Linked DNA regions of Homo sapiens: all the other regions are linked to region 1. A link means that fine-mapping ties the variant in region 1 to the expression of a gene that starts in the linked region. Tissue or cell type: whole blood. Region 1 holds a variant in brackets; each other region holds the start of a gene. All regions are shown on one strand. Distances are between the middles of the regions.

The links. PIP is the estimated chance that this variant, and not a neighbour inherited with it, causes the effect.
Region 2: TMEM91 starts here. The variant in region 1 is fine-mapped to the expression of TMEM91 in whole blood (INTERVAL, PIP above 0.99).
Region 3: it holds the start of DMAC2, and the variant in region 1 is fine-mapped to the expression of DMAC2 in whole blood (INTERVAL, PIP above 0.99).

The regions. Positions count from the first base shown.
Region 1 is chr19:41,416,750-41,421,948 of GRCh38, reverse strand. It overlaps BCKDHA (branched chain keto acid dehydrogenase E1 subunit alpha), which reads right to left. Exons shown (of 9, transcript NM_000709.4): 5 at 2,653-2,814. Among named protein-coding and RNA genes, the nearest start is that of B3GNT8, 8.0 kb to the left of the region's middle. The variant G/A (reference allele first, on the strand shown) is at 2,416.
Region 2 is chr19:41,373,871-41,378,999 of GRCh38, reverse strand. It overlaps TMEM91 (transmembrane protein 91), which reads right to left and starts at 2,467. Exons shown (of 4, transcript NM_001098821.2): 1 at 2,146-2,467; 2 at 481-719. The coding sequence starts at 690. RefSeq lists a silencer at 2,222-2,351.
Region 3 is chr19:41,437,973-41,443,101 of GRCh38, reverse strand. It overlaps DMAC2 (distal membrane arm assembly component 2), which reads left to right and starts at 3,190. Exons shown (of 6, transcript NM_018035.3): 1 at 3,190-3,220; 2 at 4,688-4,884. The coding sequence starts at 3,203. RefSeq lists an enhancer at 3,286-3,455.

The DNA.
Region 1 (5,199 bases):
AGGCTGAAGAGTCCAGTATCATCTCCAAGCCAAACTTCCCGCCATTCTCCACATCTACTCCACCTTCAGAACCTAACCCCTCTTACCTCCTCCTCTGCACCACCCTGGTCAAGCCCAAGTTACTGAGCAGCCTCCTTACTAGCCCTTCACACACTGCCCAATCCCTTATCCACAGGGCAGCCCGCGGATTCCATGAAGAGGTGAGCCAGGCCAAGGAAGAGCAGACTCCTCCCCACCCACGGCTCCTGTCCCACTTTGAGTAAAAGTCGACATCCCTGCAACAGGCAAAGGCCTTGAGGCCCCACCCAACCTGCACCATCTGCACCCCCACCCACCACCTCCTGGACTTTACCTCCAACCACCCCACACCTGCTCACCCTACACCCGCTCACTCCACACCTGCTCACTCCACACCTGCCCCTCTGGGCTCCTCCCAGCTCCTCAAACACGCCAGGCTCACACCTGCCTCAAGACACCACACAGCTCCCCCCTCACATCCTCTGGTCCATACTTCAGTGTCACTCCAGTGACGGACCCCAGCCACCCCTACAGTGCACCACACCCGGCTGGCTTGGCTGCTCCCTACAGGACCCCCACCCTCATATACTCCAGGAGTTCCCTCTCCATCTCTGTTACTGTCCGTCTCCCCCACCACAATGGCAGCACCAGGAGGGCTGAGGTTTGCGTTGCTTTTGTTCCCTGCACTTGGAGTGGCACCGGCACATGGCAGGAACTTCGTGTATTTGAAGTGACTTAGCAGGGACCCAGAGGGAAGGTTAGGGCCACGCCCCAGCCTTGTGGAAACCCTATTACCTTTAGCTCAAATGCCCCCTAAATGCCCCCTCCTCTGAGAAAGCTTCCCTGCCCACCTCCCACCTAAGAGGCTCAAACTGCTTCTTGTTCCTCAACAAAAGAACACTATGAGCTAAGGGGTGTGGAGCCTCCTGCTGTGCTGGGCACAGTGCTGAGGCCTGGAGAGACACAAACTCATGCATCTCAGCTGCCCTAGGGCAAAGAAGCCAGGGCCCAGACCAACCCTAGATCAGGCTACAGGCCCCGGAGGACAGGAAGGGGCTCCGATTCCTTGTTCTCCACACTATGAGGGTGCAGGCCTGGCACCCAGTGGGTTTGCTTCCCAAAAAAGCTCTTATAAGGGAAGGGACTTCAGGGCACCTACGGTAAGCTTTGGGGAAGCTTACTTGACTCTGAGGACTGAGGCAGACAAAGGTCAGGGCCAAGAACCCAGGCTCTGGAGGTACACAGTCAATGACTTGAGTCCCTGCTCCTCTCCCTCTGTGCCACATGACCGTTAGCGAGTGACTTCCCTCTTTGACTTCAATTTCCTTTTTTTTTTTTTTGAGACAGGATCTCACTTTGGCTAGAGTGCAATGGCACGATCTCAGCTCACTGCAAACTCTGCCTCCCAGGTTCAAGCAATCCTCCTGCTTCAGCCTCCTGAGTAGCTAGGATTACAGGTGTGCACCACCATGCCAAGCTAATTTTTGTATGTTTAGTAGGGACAGGGCTTTGCCATGTTGGCCAGGCTCCTGCACTTTTTTTTTTCCCATTCACTTGCTGTCTCTCACACACACACAAAACACGGGCATCCTGCTCTTGAAAACAGGAACAAGAGCAAATAATAACCTCTGTCCCCATGGCCACAATGAGGGTCCTTATTAGATGATGAACGTGAAGCATTGGCACAGTGGAACCTGGTGCACACGTTGGCTATGTTTGTGAGCAGACAAATGCAGTAGGCATGTGGTTGGGAAATCCAGAGTGTGGTCACACAGGCTTCAGGCCCCTGAATGGGGTGGGGACAGCAACAGAGCCCTCTTCTGAAGGGTCCCAGACAAGAGGTGCATTCAAAGTCTGGAACACAGGCCAGGTGCAGTGGCTCACATCTGTAATCCCAGCACTTTGAGAGGCCAAGGTGGGCAGATCACTTGAACTCAGGTTCAAGACCAGCCTGGCCAAAATGGTGAAACCTTATCTCTACAAAAAATACAAAAATTTAGCCAAGCACAATGGCATATGCCCATAATCCCAGCTACTCAGGAGGCTAAGGCAGGAGAATCACTTGAGCCTGGGAGGTGGAGGTTACAGTGAGCCGAGATTGCACCATTGCACTCCAACCTGGCTGACGAGAGTGAAACCCCGTCTCAGACCAAAAAAAAAAAAAAAAAAAAAAAAAAAAAAAAAGTGGGCTGGGCACAATGGCTTAAACGCCTGTAATCCCAGCACTTTGAGAGGCTGAGGCGGGTGGATCACCTGAGGCCGGGAGTTTGAGACCAGCCTGGCCAACACGGTGAAACCCTGTCTCTATTAAAAATACAAAAATTAGCTGGGCGTGGTGGTGCACACCTGTAGTCTCAGCTAATCGGGAGGCTGAGGCAGGAGAATTGCTTGAAGCTG[G/A]GAGAAGGAGGCTGCAGTGAGCTGCGATAGCACCACTGCACTCTAGCCTGGGCAACAGTGCAAGACTCCGTCTCAAAAAAGAAAAAAATAAGAAGAAGAAGTCTGGAGCACAGACCAGGGCTCTAGTGGTGTCACCAACCCAGAATTCCACCCAGAAGGCAGGCAAAAGAGCTGAGGCCTGGACAGGGGTGTGACATTGGTCTGCACATGTGCAAGGTACAGGGCATGCATCCTCACCCTGAGGGATCTGCGTGGCCAGTGGAGAGGAGATAGTGACGAAGTGGCGTTCCTTGCAGCCGTAGTGGACAGGCATCTGGCGCCCCTTGCCCAAGTCACTGATGTTGCCATAGCACTGGGCCATGAATAGTTCCAGGGGGTAGTCCCGATACATCAGCACACCTAGGAGGGGAGGAGGCAATGGTTAGCCGAGTGGGCAGTACAGGGGGACAGTTCAGCCCTGTGGGTGACCTGCAGCATGCTGGCAGGCAGACAGGAAAGCTCAGGCTTGTTTTAAGAGGAAGACTGATGTTCAGACTGACTGACTCTGCCCAGCAAGGCCAATCTGATTTTTCAAAAGAAAGCAGAAATCTAGCCTTTTTCTTTCTTTCTCTTAGTGAGATATTGTCTGGTATTTAAGTGCTTTCAACTAATTCAATTACCTTTAAGAAATATTCTAACCATAAATCATTACTATGGCCAGGCATGGTGGTTCATGCCTGTAATCCCAGCACTTTGAGAGGCTGACGTTGGAGGATCGCTTGAGCCCAGGAGTTGGAGACCAGCCTGAGCAACATGGTGAGGCCTCGCTTCTACAAAAAAAAAAAAAAATCAAAACATTAGCCAGGCATGGTGATGTGTGCCTGTGGTTCCAGCTACTTGGGAGGCTGAGGCAGAGGATTGCTTCAGCCCAGAAGTTCAAGGCTGCAGGCAGCTGAGATCGTGCCACTGCACTCCAATCTGGGCTACAAAGCAAGACCCTGTCTCGAAAAAAAAAAAAAATCATCATTATGAACCAAATAACAGCATAGACCACTAATTTACAACTTCTGGACTACAGAAGTACTCTAACCCATGTATGGCAGTAAAACCTTTTCTTCAAACAAAACCTCTGGTGAACACCCACCTCCCCATCAAAGGGAACCGCTCCAGGTTAAGGGGGCCCTTCCTCCGAAGTTAGAAGACAGAAGGGGGTTTGTGATTGCCCTCAGACAAGCTCTTTGCCCCGCCTGAAGAGTGGGACAACCTTCACACCAACACTTTAGGGGCAGCGCTGTGGATCAATGCTGCAAGCACTCAGACCGGGAACATTATTCAGAGGGAGCTCTCTAGTACAGTGCTTTCCAAATCCTTTCTTTACCGCAGAACCCGCTCTTTAGATACAAATTTAATGGAGATCACATTACACACAGCAGTTACCTTTTTTTTTTTTTTTTTTTTTTTTTGAGACAGAGTCTGGCTTGGCCACCCAGGCTGGAGTGCAGTGGCGCAATCTGAGCTCACTGCAACCTCCACCTTCCAGGTTCAAGCAATTCTTATGCCTCAGCCTCCCAGATAGCTGGGATTCCAGGTGTGCACCACTAGATCTACCTAATTTTCTTTCTTTTTTTTTTTTTGAGACGGAGTTTTGCTCTTGTTGCCCAGAATGCAATGGCGCAATCTTGGCTCACTGCAACCTCTGCCTCCTGGGTTCAAGCGATTCTCCTGCCTCAGCCTCCTGAGTAGCTGGGATTACAGGCATGTGCCACCACATCCAGCTAATTTTTGCATTTTCAGGAGAGACGGGGTTTCTCCATGTTGGTCAGGCTGGTCTCAAACTCCCGACCTCAGGTGATCCACCCACCTCAGCCTCCCAAAGTGCTGCAATTACAGGTGTGAGCCACCACGCCCAGCCCACTTGTTGATATTTTAGTTAGAGTTGAGGGTGGTTAGCACTACTTCAACATCCAACTTTAATACAGGTTTACTGGTATTTTCTGACACATGCTTTTGAATGGACATAATACAAATCCACACAAGATGTGGCTGTGCTGCATATGTAACAGATAGAAACAGGAGTTGCTCTGGTTAAGGAGGGAAAGAAAGGTCTTGTAGAGGGTCAAAGAAGGTCCAAGGGACTGATACAGGACCTTGGAATCAGGCTTTCTCAGAATGTGGTACTAGGTCCACCCATGTGAGAAGGACTGGGCAGGGGCAGGGGAACGTGCTAAAAGTACAAACTTGTCAGGCTCAGTGGCTCGTGCCTGTAATCCCAGCACTTTGGAAGGGTGAGGCAGGTGGACTGCTTGAGCTCAGGAGTTTGAGACCAGCCTGGGCAACACAGCGAAACCCCGTCTCTACCAAAAATCAAAAAAAAAATTAGCCAGGTGTGGTGGCGTGCACCTGTGGTCCCAGCTATTCAGGGGGCTGAGGTGGGAGGATCACTTGATCCTAAGAGGCAGAGGTTGCAGTGAGCCGAGATCATGCCACTGCACTTCAACCTGGGTGACAGAGTAAGACCCCGTCTTGAAGAAAAAAGAAAATACAGACTCACAGGCTGATTTGCACCAGGAAACTCCAGGTCCAGTGGGAACTGCTGCTCTTGCTTGACACATGCTACCTCTTTTCTTGTTGGTCTCAGAGACAGGATCTTACTCTGTCACCCAAACTGGAGTTCGGTGGTGGAATCATAGCTCACTGCAGTCTTGAACCTCTGGGCTCAAGCAATCCTCCCACTCAGCTTCCTGAGTAGCTGGGACTACAGGTGTGCACCACCACGCCTGGCTAATTTTTTAATTTTTTAGAGAT
Region 2 (5,129 bases), 43 kb after region 1:
ATTAGCCAGGCATGGTGGCACATGCCTGTGGTCCCAGCTACTCAGGAGGCTGAGGTGGGAGGATTGCTTAAGCCCGGGAGGTCAAGGTTGCAGTAAACTATGATCGCTCCACTGCACTCCAGCCTGGGCAACAGAGCGAGACCCTGTCTCTCTCTCTCTCTCTCTCTCTCTCTCTCACACACACACACAAAGAGGGAGACAGCAGGGTGGACAAAAGCCAGAGGTGCATGCACTCTGAAGACACCAACCAGCGGAGTCTGAGATCAGAGGGAAGACAGAGCCAAAAGCCAGGCAACAAAGATGAGAGACATAAAACAAGAAGAACCGTAACTGGAAATCTCAGAAGCCCACACACAGCTGGGAAGTGAGACTCCAGGCCTAAGGCAGATCGGCACAGCTGTCAACCTGCCAGATGCTGGCCTTAGTGGGGCTCACCCCAGCCCCCTCCCGTGCCTTCCACTAAGGCCTGCTGTTTCCTACCTCAACATCAGGGGGCCTTGGTTCCCCCAGGCCAGCGCTCACGGAGGGAAGAGGCGGTGACAGGAACTGCAAACCCCTCAGGGACTCGGCAAAGGCTATCTCTCTTAAGGGGGACCCCAGCTCATGCCTGCCAGGCTTCTGGGCAGGGGTCTCACATTCTGTGCCCTCCAGCAGAGGCTGTTGAAGCTCACGAAGACTAGGGCTGTCCATGGCTTTGGGGAAACTCCAGGAGGGGTTTCCTAGGGGTAGGGGGAAGAAAAAGACAAGTTGTAAAAGTCTCACTTCACTCAACCTCTGACCCCTTGCTTTAGAGAGACTCAGGCAGAGACTAGTTAGTGCAGTGGTCCTCAGACCCATTTTACAGATACAGAAGCTGAGGCCCAGAGAGAAAAAAAGATTGGCCTCAGGTTATGAAGAGAACTCAGGGGTCTGGACATTCAATTTTGGGCATTTCTCTCTCTCTCTCTTTTTTTTTTTTTTTTTTGAGACAAAGTCTCCATCTGTTGCCCAGGCAGATCCACCACTGCAGATCCGCTAGAGTGCAGTGGCATGATCTCAGCACACTGCAGCCTCCACCTCCCGGGTTCAAACCATTCTGCCTCAGCCTCCCGAGTAGCTGGGATTACAGGCGCCCACCACCATGCCCGGCTAATTTTTTTTTTTGTATTTTTAGTAAAGATAGGGTTTCACTGTGTTAACCAGGCTGGTCCCGAACTCCTGACCTTAGGGGATCCACCAGCCTTGGCCTCCCAAAGTGCTGGGATTACAGGCGTGAGCCACCGCACCCAGCCAAATTCTGGGCATTTCTCTCAGGCAAAAGCCACATACCCATCACACTTACCCCAATAAGTTGCAGCACCTGTTGCACCATGCCTTACACACTTACCTGCCCCACAAACACCCCCAATATCCATCCCAGGTTCATACCGCGTGACCACCTATCCAGGCCCAGGCACCCCTCCCAGTCACACACACACCCATCCCCTACCCCCAGTGCTGCCTGGAACTGCACTCTAGTCTACATTCCCCATCCTCTGTCCCCTAGACCTGCCCCCCGAAGTCCCCTGCCACACAGCCCCATCTAGGCAAGCCCAGCCTCCACCTCCACACATTCATCTCCCAAAGGACTCCTTGAATATTTGCCCCAAAACATCAGCTCCCAGAAAACACCCCTTTCAGGTCCCCAACCTTCTTACACATTTATCCCAATTGACTCCGTGCACAACCCTACTCCCCACTGCATCACAAACCACAGACACCTGTGCACACACGCACACATGCACCCCGGCACTCTCTCCTATTCTCATGACCTCTGGCATGCCTGCCCCACTCATCAGGCCCAGGCACCCCTGCCCTACTCCACCCACACACCTATGACTCCACACAACTCCCACACATGCACCAGCTCTCCAGAATCCTTTGCACACCTCGCCCCCATAAACACCCTCAACCCCAGCACACACATACACGTACACACGCAACACAACCAGAAAGAATATTCTTCTTCTCGTCCTACGATCCCCCTGGAAGGTCCCCAAGCCTCCTGCCTGCTCATTCCAAACCTTGACTGAGCCGATTTCCTCGCCAAAGCTTTGCCCTCTCATCCCCAACTCCAGGACCCAGGGAAGGGACTGTGACCCCCACCCACCTACGTCCCTCACTCACCGCTCACGATCACAGGCCGGGGCTTCCTGAACCCTCGCAATGACACTTGCCCGGACCCTGCCACCGAGGATCCAAGGGGCGCTGGGACCTTGCGCTTTGCTCTACGCGGGTCTCAGCGCCCCGGGCCCGCTGCGCGCGGGGGCGGGGACGGGGCGGGGCGACGGCTTCCCAGGCTCTGTCCCTCCGCGGCGTCCGGCGAGGGATCCCTGAAAGCCGACGTCAGCGTCCAGGAACGGGTTCCTACGACTCCCGGGGGTCTGGGAGCAGGCGGGAATCCTTGGAGAACTGCAGCCCCTTCCTCGTGAGCCCAGGCCCAAGCTCTGCCGGAGGAGGGGGCACCCCGGATTCTCCAGGGCCTTCCTGGCTTGGCCCCGCCTCCCTTCCCCTTTGCGCAATAATAGCCAATAATAATAACAGCAACAAGGACCGTGCGCCCTGTTCTAAGTGCTTTGCAAATAAACTTACATACACATGTATTCCTCAGCACAACCCTAAGAGGCATAATCGTTTATTGTCCTGTTTCACGCGGGAGGAAACTGGCAAGCCGAGGTTAGGTAAATTGCCTAGGGGTACATCATTGGTTCATTGAGGGCAGACTGTACCCAAGCCCTGTGTTAAACGCTTTACATTCATCATCGCATTCATTCTTCCTCTCAGCTCCGGGTTTTTCTTGTTGTTGTTGTTGTTGTCGCTGCTATTTTACTTTGGTTTTTTTGTTTGTTTTGTTTTGTTTTTGAGACGGAGTCTTGCTCTGTCGCCCAGGCTAGAGTGCAGTGGAGTGATCTCGGCTCACCGCAACCTCCGCTTCCCGGGTTCAAGCGATTCTCCTGCCTCAGCCTCCCGAGTAGCTGGGATTACAGGGGCAAGCCACCACGCCCAGCTAATTTTTGTATTTTTAGTAGATGAGATTTCGCTGTGTTGGTCAGGTTGGTCTTGAACTCCTGACCTCAGGTGATCTGCCCGCCTCAGCCTCCCAAAGTGTTAGGATTACAGGCGTGAGCCACCGCGCCCGGCAGATTTTTTTTTTATTATTATTTTTTAAAAGACGGGGTCTTGCTCTGATCGCCCAGGCTGGAAGGCAGTGGCGCAATCATTGCTCGCTTCAGCCTCAGACTCCTGGGTTCACTGCAGCCTCGGCCTCCCAAAGCGGTGGGATTACAGGTGTGAGTCACCGCGCCTGGCCTATTTTGTTTTGGGGTGTTTTTTTGCGGAGGAGTGCTGAAGGGGTGTTGGCTTGTTTTTAATCCCTGTTTTGCAGATAAAGAAACGGGCTCACGGGCCGGGCGCAGTGGCTCACGCCTGTAATCCCAACACTTTGGGAGGCCGAGGCGGGCGGATCACGAGGTCAGGAGATCCAGACCATCCTGGCTGACACGGTGAAACCCTGTCTCTACTAAAAATACAAAAAATTAGCCGGGCTTGGTGGCGGGCGCTTGTAGTCCCAGCTACTTGGGAGGCTGAGGCAGGAGAATGGCGTGGACCCGGGAGGCGGAGCTTGCAGTGAGCCGAGATCGCGCCACTGCACTCCAGCCTGGGAAACAGCAAGACTCCGTCTCAAAAAAAAAAAAAAAAAAAAAAAAAGAAAAGAAAATAAACGGGCTCACTTGCATGCTCACTTGGCCACAGTAAACAGCTGGTACCAAGCCCAGCATATTGTAACCCCGGGCTGTGTTCCTGTGGCCCTTGCTAAGCCAATGGGTGAGGAGGAAGCAGAGGCAGGTGGGTTAGGAGTTTCTAGGGAAAGAAGGCTGAGGAGTGGGGTCCAGTAGGGGGTGATGCTCTGATTGTCACGTGGTACAGTGATGTTCATGAGTCAGCATTTGGACCCACATAGACCTGGTTTCCTTTCCAGGCTCTTTGTTTGTTTGTTTGAGATGGAGTTTCACTCTTGTTGCCCAGGCTGGAGGGCAATGGCGTGATCTCGGCTCACCGCAACCTCCGCCTCCCAGGTTCAAGCGATTCTCCTGCCTCAGCCTCCCGAGTAGTTAGGATTACAGGAATGCGCCATCACACCTGGCTAATTTTGTATTTTTGGTAGAGATGGGGTTTCTCCATATGAGTCAGGCTGGTCTTGAACTCCCGACCTCAGGTGACCCACCCGCCTCAGCCTCCCAAAGTGCTGGGATTACAGGTGTGAGCCACCATTCCTGGCCCCTTTCCAGGCTCTTTAAGTCACTGAGTGTGTGGCCTCTAGACAATGCCTTCACCTCTCTGAACCCCTATTTCTTCACCTACAAAATGGGGATAATGCTCCTTGCCTCTTATGTGATAACATATGTAGAGTACTTAGAGTTGCTGCAACAACAAATGTCCAACATTGGGAGCCTCTCTGAACCTATTTTGGTTTAGGTGCTGCCTAGGAAATAGAAAAATAAAAAATAAAAAGAACAGATATCCAACATTTATCCAAAGCCTGGCAAAGAAAGCACTCTGAACACATTTGATGGTGTTTATTAATATTATTATTTACATCCATCTCCATCGGACTGATTACAAGACTATCATCGTCTTGCAAGCTTCCACCTCCTTCATGGAGCCTTGTATAGGCCTCCCTTCCCAGAAGCCCTCCGTCTCACCAGACTGGAGGATTCCCTGGCCTTTGTGGGGCCGGAGTTCCCTCGCTCCAGGGCTCCAGGGCTCCTTGCCAAGAGTCCAGATGCTGGCGCTGGCACCGGCCCCACTCCCAGGGAGAACAGATGGCGTCTGCAAGTGCACTTGGCTCAGCCAGTTTCTGGCAGACGACAGAAGCAGGGAGACCCACGGGAGGGTAGACGAGAGCGTGAGGGGGCAGGATTGTTTTACTCAGGAGGGATGCCCTGTTACTTTCTATCTCAACCTTGCTCTCATTCTTTTCATATTTCTATGAAGCATACTGTAGGCCAGGTGCGGTGGCCCACGCCTGTAATCCCAGCCCTTTGGGAGGCCGAGGAGGGAGGACTGCTTGAGCCTAGGAGTTCGAAACCAGCCTGGGCGACATAGCAAAA
Region 3 (5,129 bases), 21 kb before region 1:
CTGTGTGCGTGGTGGAGAGTAAAGGGCAGAGGGAGTGGGATGGGGGTTCCTGGGAAAGGTATCCCAAAGTCCACTCTTCAGAGAGAATCAGCTGGCCTTGTGCTTTTCTTTTTCCTTCTGAAGTCTAACCTCAACTCTGCTCACAGGGTTCAAACATAGCCTCTTGCAGAGGTCTAACTCCACCCTTCCCTGCCTGTCTCAGGCCTGACCCCTCAGGGGCGCTCAGTGTCTGTAGATGCCTGGCACCCTCTGTCCTTCCACCTGCCCCCCACCACCACTTCTCCAGCCTCTCCTCAGCCTCCATTTGACCTCTGGCTTGCCCATAGCTTGGTCCTTGCTTGTCCTCTTGGCACGGGTCATCCTAGGGCTTTCCCACCAGTGTGCCTTTGGGGGCAGGAATGGCTCCCAGGGGCACCAAGACAGCAATCCCTTAGCTGGAGTGCCTGTGTCCAGGCTGCTGGCCTAGGGCCAAGCAGCCAATTCTGCTGACCCTGGACTTGCCTATGGGTATATTATCCCTGTTGAGGGTGAGGGCTTCTGCTGTGGAAAAGTCTGGGAAGCACTGCAGGCCTCTCTCGGCCTTGGACCCTTCCTTCAGACCCAAGGTGCATATATATACATATATATAATGGTAGATCACGAGGTCAGGAGATCAAGACCATCCTGGCCACATGGTGAAACCCCGTCTCTAGTAAAACACAAAAAATTAGCCGGGCATGCTGCCGCGTGCCTGTAGTCCCAGCTACTCGGGAGGCTGAGGCAGGAGAATGGTGTGAACCCAGGAGGTGGAGGTTGCAGTAAGCCAAGATCACGCCACTGCATTCCAGCCTGGCGACAGAGCAAGACTCCATCTTAAAATAAACAAATGAACAATATATATATATATGTATTTTGTTTTTTGAGACAGAGTCTCGCTCTGTCATCCAGGCTGGACTGCAGTGGTGCAATCTTGGCTCACTGCAACCTCCGCCTCCCGGGTTCAAGCGATTCCCCTGCCTCAGCCTCCTGAACAGCTGGGGTTACAGGTGCACGCCACCACACCTGGCGAATTTTTGTATGTTTAGTGGAGACGGGGTTTCACCATGTTAGCCAGGCTGGTCTCAAACCCCTGACCTCAGGTGATCTGCCCACCTCGGCCTCCCAAAGTGCTGGGATTACAGGCGTGAGCCAACGCGCCCAGCCCCAAGTCCCTTTTACCATAGAAAGTAACATAGTCACAGTGCCCAGGGATTCACAGGTATGGGGAGAGGGTTCGTTATTCAGCTGCCACACCCACCTTCCTAAACCTGCTGCCCTTCCAGTTTCCTCACGTGCACAGCCACGCCCGTCTGCTTTTAGTTTCTCAATCTGTTGGCTTAACCTTCAAAACAGGCCCAGGATTTGAGCACTTCTCACCATTCCCTCTGCCCCATCCCCATTCATCTCTTGCCTAGACTGCTACAGCAGCCTCTTTTACTGGTCCCCTGCATCCACCCTTGCCCTCTAAGGCAAGGGTCCCCAGTCCCTGGGCCAAGGACCAGTACCAGCCCCTCGCCTGCTAGGAACTGGGCCGCACAGCAAGAGATGAGCAGCGGGTAAGTGAGCATTACCGCCTGAGCTCCGCCTCCTGTCACATCAGCAGTGGCATTAGATTCTCATAGGAGGCAAACCCTATTGTGAACTGTGCGTGCGGGGGATCTAGGTTGCCTGCTCCTTATGAGAATCTAATGCCTGATGATCTCAGGTGGAACAGTTTCATCCCAAAACCATCCCCACCCCACCCCCGACCCCCAGTCTATGGAAAAATTGTCCTCCACGAAACCAGTCCCTGGTAACAAAACGGTTAGGGACCGCTGCTCTAAGGTACATTCTCCACCTGGCAGAAATAATCTTTACAAAATGTAAATCCGATTTTGACACTCCCTTCTTCCCACTGTGAATAGAATAAAACCCTACCAGGCCTGCACCGTCAGCCCCTGCCCACCTCTCAACCCAGTCTCCTATCTCTGTCTGCAAGCTGGTTCCCACCTCAAGGCCTCTCTGCTCTAGAGGCTACCTCTCCCTGCAGCGCTTTTCCCCTAGATCTTTGAATGGCTCTTTCCTTATCATTCACTTCTACTTCAATGTCACCTCTTCAGAGAGGCCTTTGCTGATGGCCCTACACCCAGTCACTTTTTTTTATCTGCTTCTCATCAAAATTGCCTTGCTGATTCCTTTGTTTCTTATTCATCCTCTCCCACATCCATCCTCTCCCAGCCCAGAATGTTGACTTCCTGAGAGAGGGACTGGGTCTGTCCTGCTCACCATGGTAACCTCGGCATCTAGAACAGTGCCTGCCATCACGTGGTAGGTGCTCAGTAAATATTCTTGGAACTAATGAATGAATAATTCTATCCACAAGACTTCACAATGGCTCTTCATGCTGCGATCTAGCTTTCAACTCCAAACTGGTCTTGAGATCTCACCTCAGTCTCTAACCTTGACATCTAACCTCTTCACCCACTCTCTTACCTGACCCTAATTTTTAAAAATGACGTGGTCAGCTTTTCAGCCCCCTCATTCCCTGTTTTTAGGAGGTAGTGAGTGGAAGCTGGAAGAATAAGAAAGCTTGGGGAGACTGCAATTGCAGTCAGGAAAGAAAGGTACTCTGCCGGGAAGAACACCCCATCTTCTCCTAGGGAAAGATTGTGGAGTCCTGGGGTTTGTTTTGTTTTTCAATTTTTTGTTTTAAGAGACAGCGTCTCGCTCTGTCACCCAGGCTGGAGTGCAGTGGCGCAATCACAGCTCACTGCAACTTCGACCTCCCCGGCTCAAGTGATCCCCCCGCCTCAGCCTCGTGAGTAGCTGGGACCACAGGCGTGCACCACCACGCCCGGCTAACATTTTATTTTTTGTGGATATAAGGTTGCCCTATTTCTTTGTGGAGATAAAGGCTCCCCTATGTTGCCCAGGCTGGTCTCGAACTCCTGGCTTCAAGCGATGCTTTCGCCTCGGCCTCCACAAAGTGCTGGGTTCACAGGTGCGTGAGCCCGACCTGTGTCTCGTTTTGAAGCTCAGGGAGAGGGCGCTGTGAGCAATCCCTAAACCCTTTAAGAGTAAAAAGTGCGTGCACCTTTAAGAGGACGGTTAGAAAACGCGGGGCGTGGCCACAGGAGAATAAGTTCGCGCTGAACCAGGAGCGTGGGATAAGACCGGCCCCTTCCGGTTACGAAACCTTAGCAAGATGGCGGCTCCCTGGGCGGTAAGTGACCGGAGTTCCTAGAGCCCCAAATTTGAAGTCCGCTCTACAGCCTCCGCATTCAGGGCCTCTGTTGGCGGCCACGAGAGCAGAAAGCCGTGAGGCAGCAGGCTAAGCCTGGCAAGCCCCGTACTGGGAGTGCAAACCTGTGGCTAGTGGGGGCCAGGAAGGATCTGTGAGGGTCGCAGGCGGAGGAGACGCTTTAGCGAGCGAGAGGAGGCAGGGACTTGGCTGAGAGTATCCAATGGGGATGAGGGAGTGGCTGCCGAAGAGCGACGCGACTAACCAATCAGAGGGAGGGATGACACAAGGAGCTAATGGACAGGCAAGGGTGGGGCCTGTAGGATAAGAGAGCTTGGAAGGGATTGTTCGAGGATGTGGGATTTGGTCTTAGAAGACCGAAGGATGAATGTAAGGAAAGTTAGTGGGAGATTGACGAATTTTTACAGAAAACTCAAAAGCATGATGGGTGGGGGAACCAAGAGGTCAATTTGGAGGTTCTAAGGGCATGATCTGGGTGAAATTAAGAGGAGAATTTGAGATATTCTTTCAGAGGATTTAAAATCAAGGAATGAATTTAGGGAAAATTAAAGAGGTTGGCAGCTTTAAACTTTTGAGGAAAATAAGGGTTTGGGTAAAATTATCGAGATAATTTGAAAAAAAAAAAGAATTTGGTTAAAGCAAAGAGAAATTGGGGTAGATTAAGAGGAGACCTTGAAAGCAAAATTGAAGAGTTTGGGGGCTTCTTCCCATTGGCCACACCCCTCGACTTTCTTACTCTCCTCTTCAAAGCTCATGCTTTTTATACCCTTCTCGGTTCAGGGGTGTCCAATCTTTTGGCTTCCCTGGGCCACGCTGTTCGAAGAAGAAGAATTGTCTTGGGCCACACATAAAATACACTAACCATAACTGATGAGCCAAAAAAAAAAAAAAAAAAATCACAAAAATATCCTCCTAATGTTTTAAGAAAGTTTGCATGTTTGTGTTGGGCTGCATGCAGGCGGCGGGTTGGACAAGCTTGGTTGGTTTTAGGGATTGCTCAGAGCACCCTCTCCTTGAGGTTTGGAGATAAGTTTTTAAGATTATATTCTGGGGAAAGAAAGAAGTCATTTGGGAAGACCCCAGCAGAAGAATTGGGTAATTAAGGGGCAAATCTGTGGAAAATTAAGAGGTCAAATAATGCAGGTTTTGAGTGATAAGGGTTTGGGGGAAAGTTAGAGGAAGAATTTAGGAAAATCAACAATATATGGCTAGTCGAGAAAATTTAGGGTTCACTAAGGGGAGGAGGAACTTGGAAAAAACATGGGGAAATTTTTGGAATCTCAAAGACAGTTTTGAAGTTTTGAAGGAAGAACTTAGGGTGAGTTGGGAAGCAGAGGGATTGAGGTTCATGGAGCAAGAACTGGGGGATCCAGCTCTGTGTCTCCCAGGAGGCTCCAGGCTCAGCTCCTTTCCTCTCCCCCTCCCCAGTCCCTGCGCCTGGTCGCCCCCATGTGGAATGGGCGTATCAGGGGCATCCATCGCCTGGGTGCGGCAGTGGCCCCAGAGGGCAATCAGAAGAAGAAAAGGACAATACTCCAGTTCCTGACCAACTATTTCTACGATGTGGAGGCTCTGAGGGATTACTTGCTCCAAAGGGAGATGTACAAGGTGCATGAGAAAAATCGGTGAGAATCCCTGGTCTGCAAGACCCTGTGGAGACCCTGGCCCACCAGAGCCCAGGTCCTGTCCTTGCCATTCCCAGGCAGCACTGTGGCTTCCAGTGCCAGCCTTGATGTCTCTTGCAGCTCCATCTCCAGGCTGTACCCTTCTCAAGGACTCCAGCTCACATAGGCAGTTTGCCACCCACCAGCTCCACTCAGAGTCTAACTGGCATCTCAAACCTAACATGGCTAAAGCCAAACCCTGATTT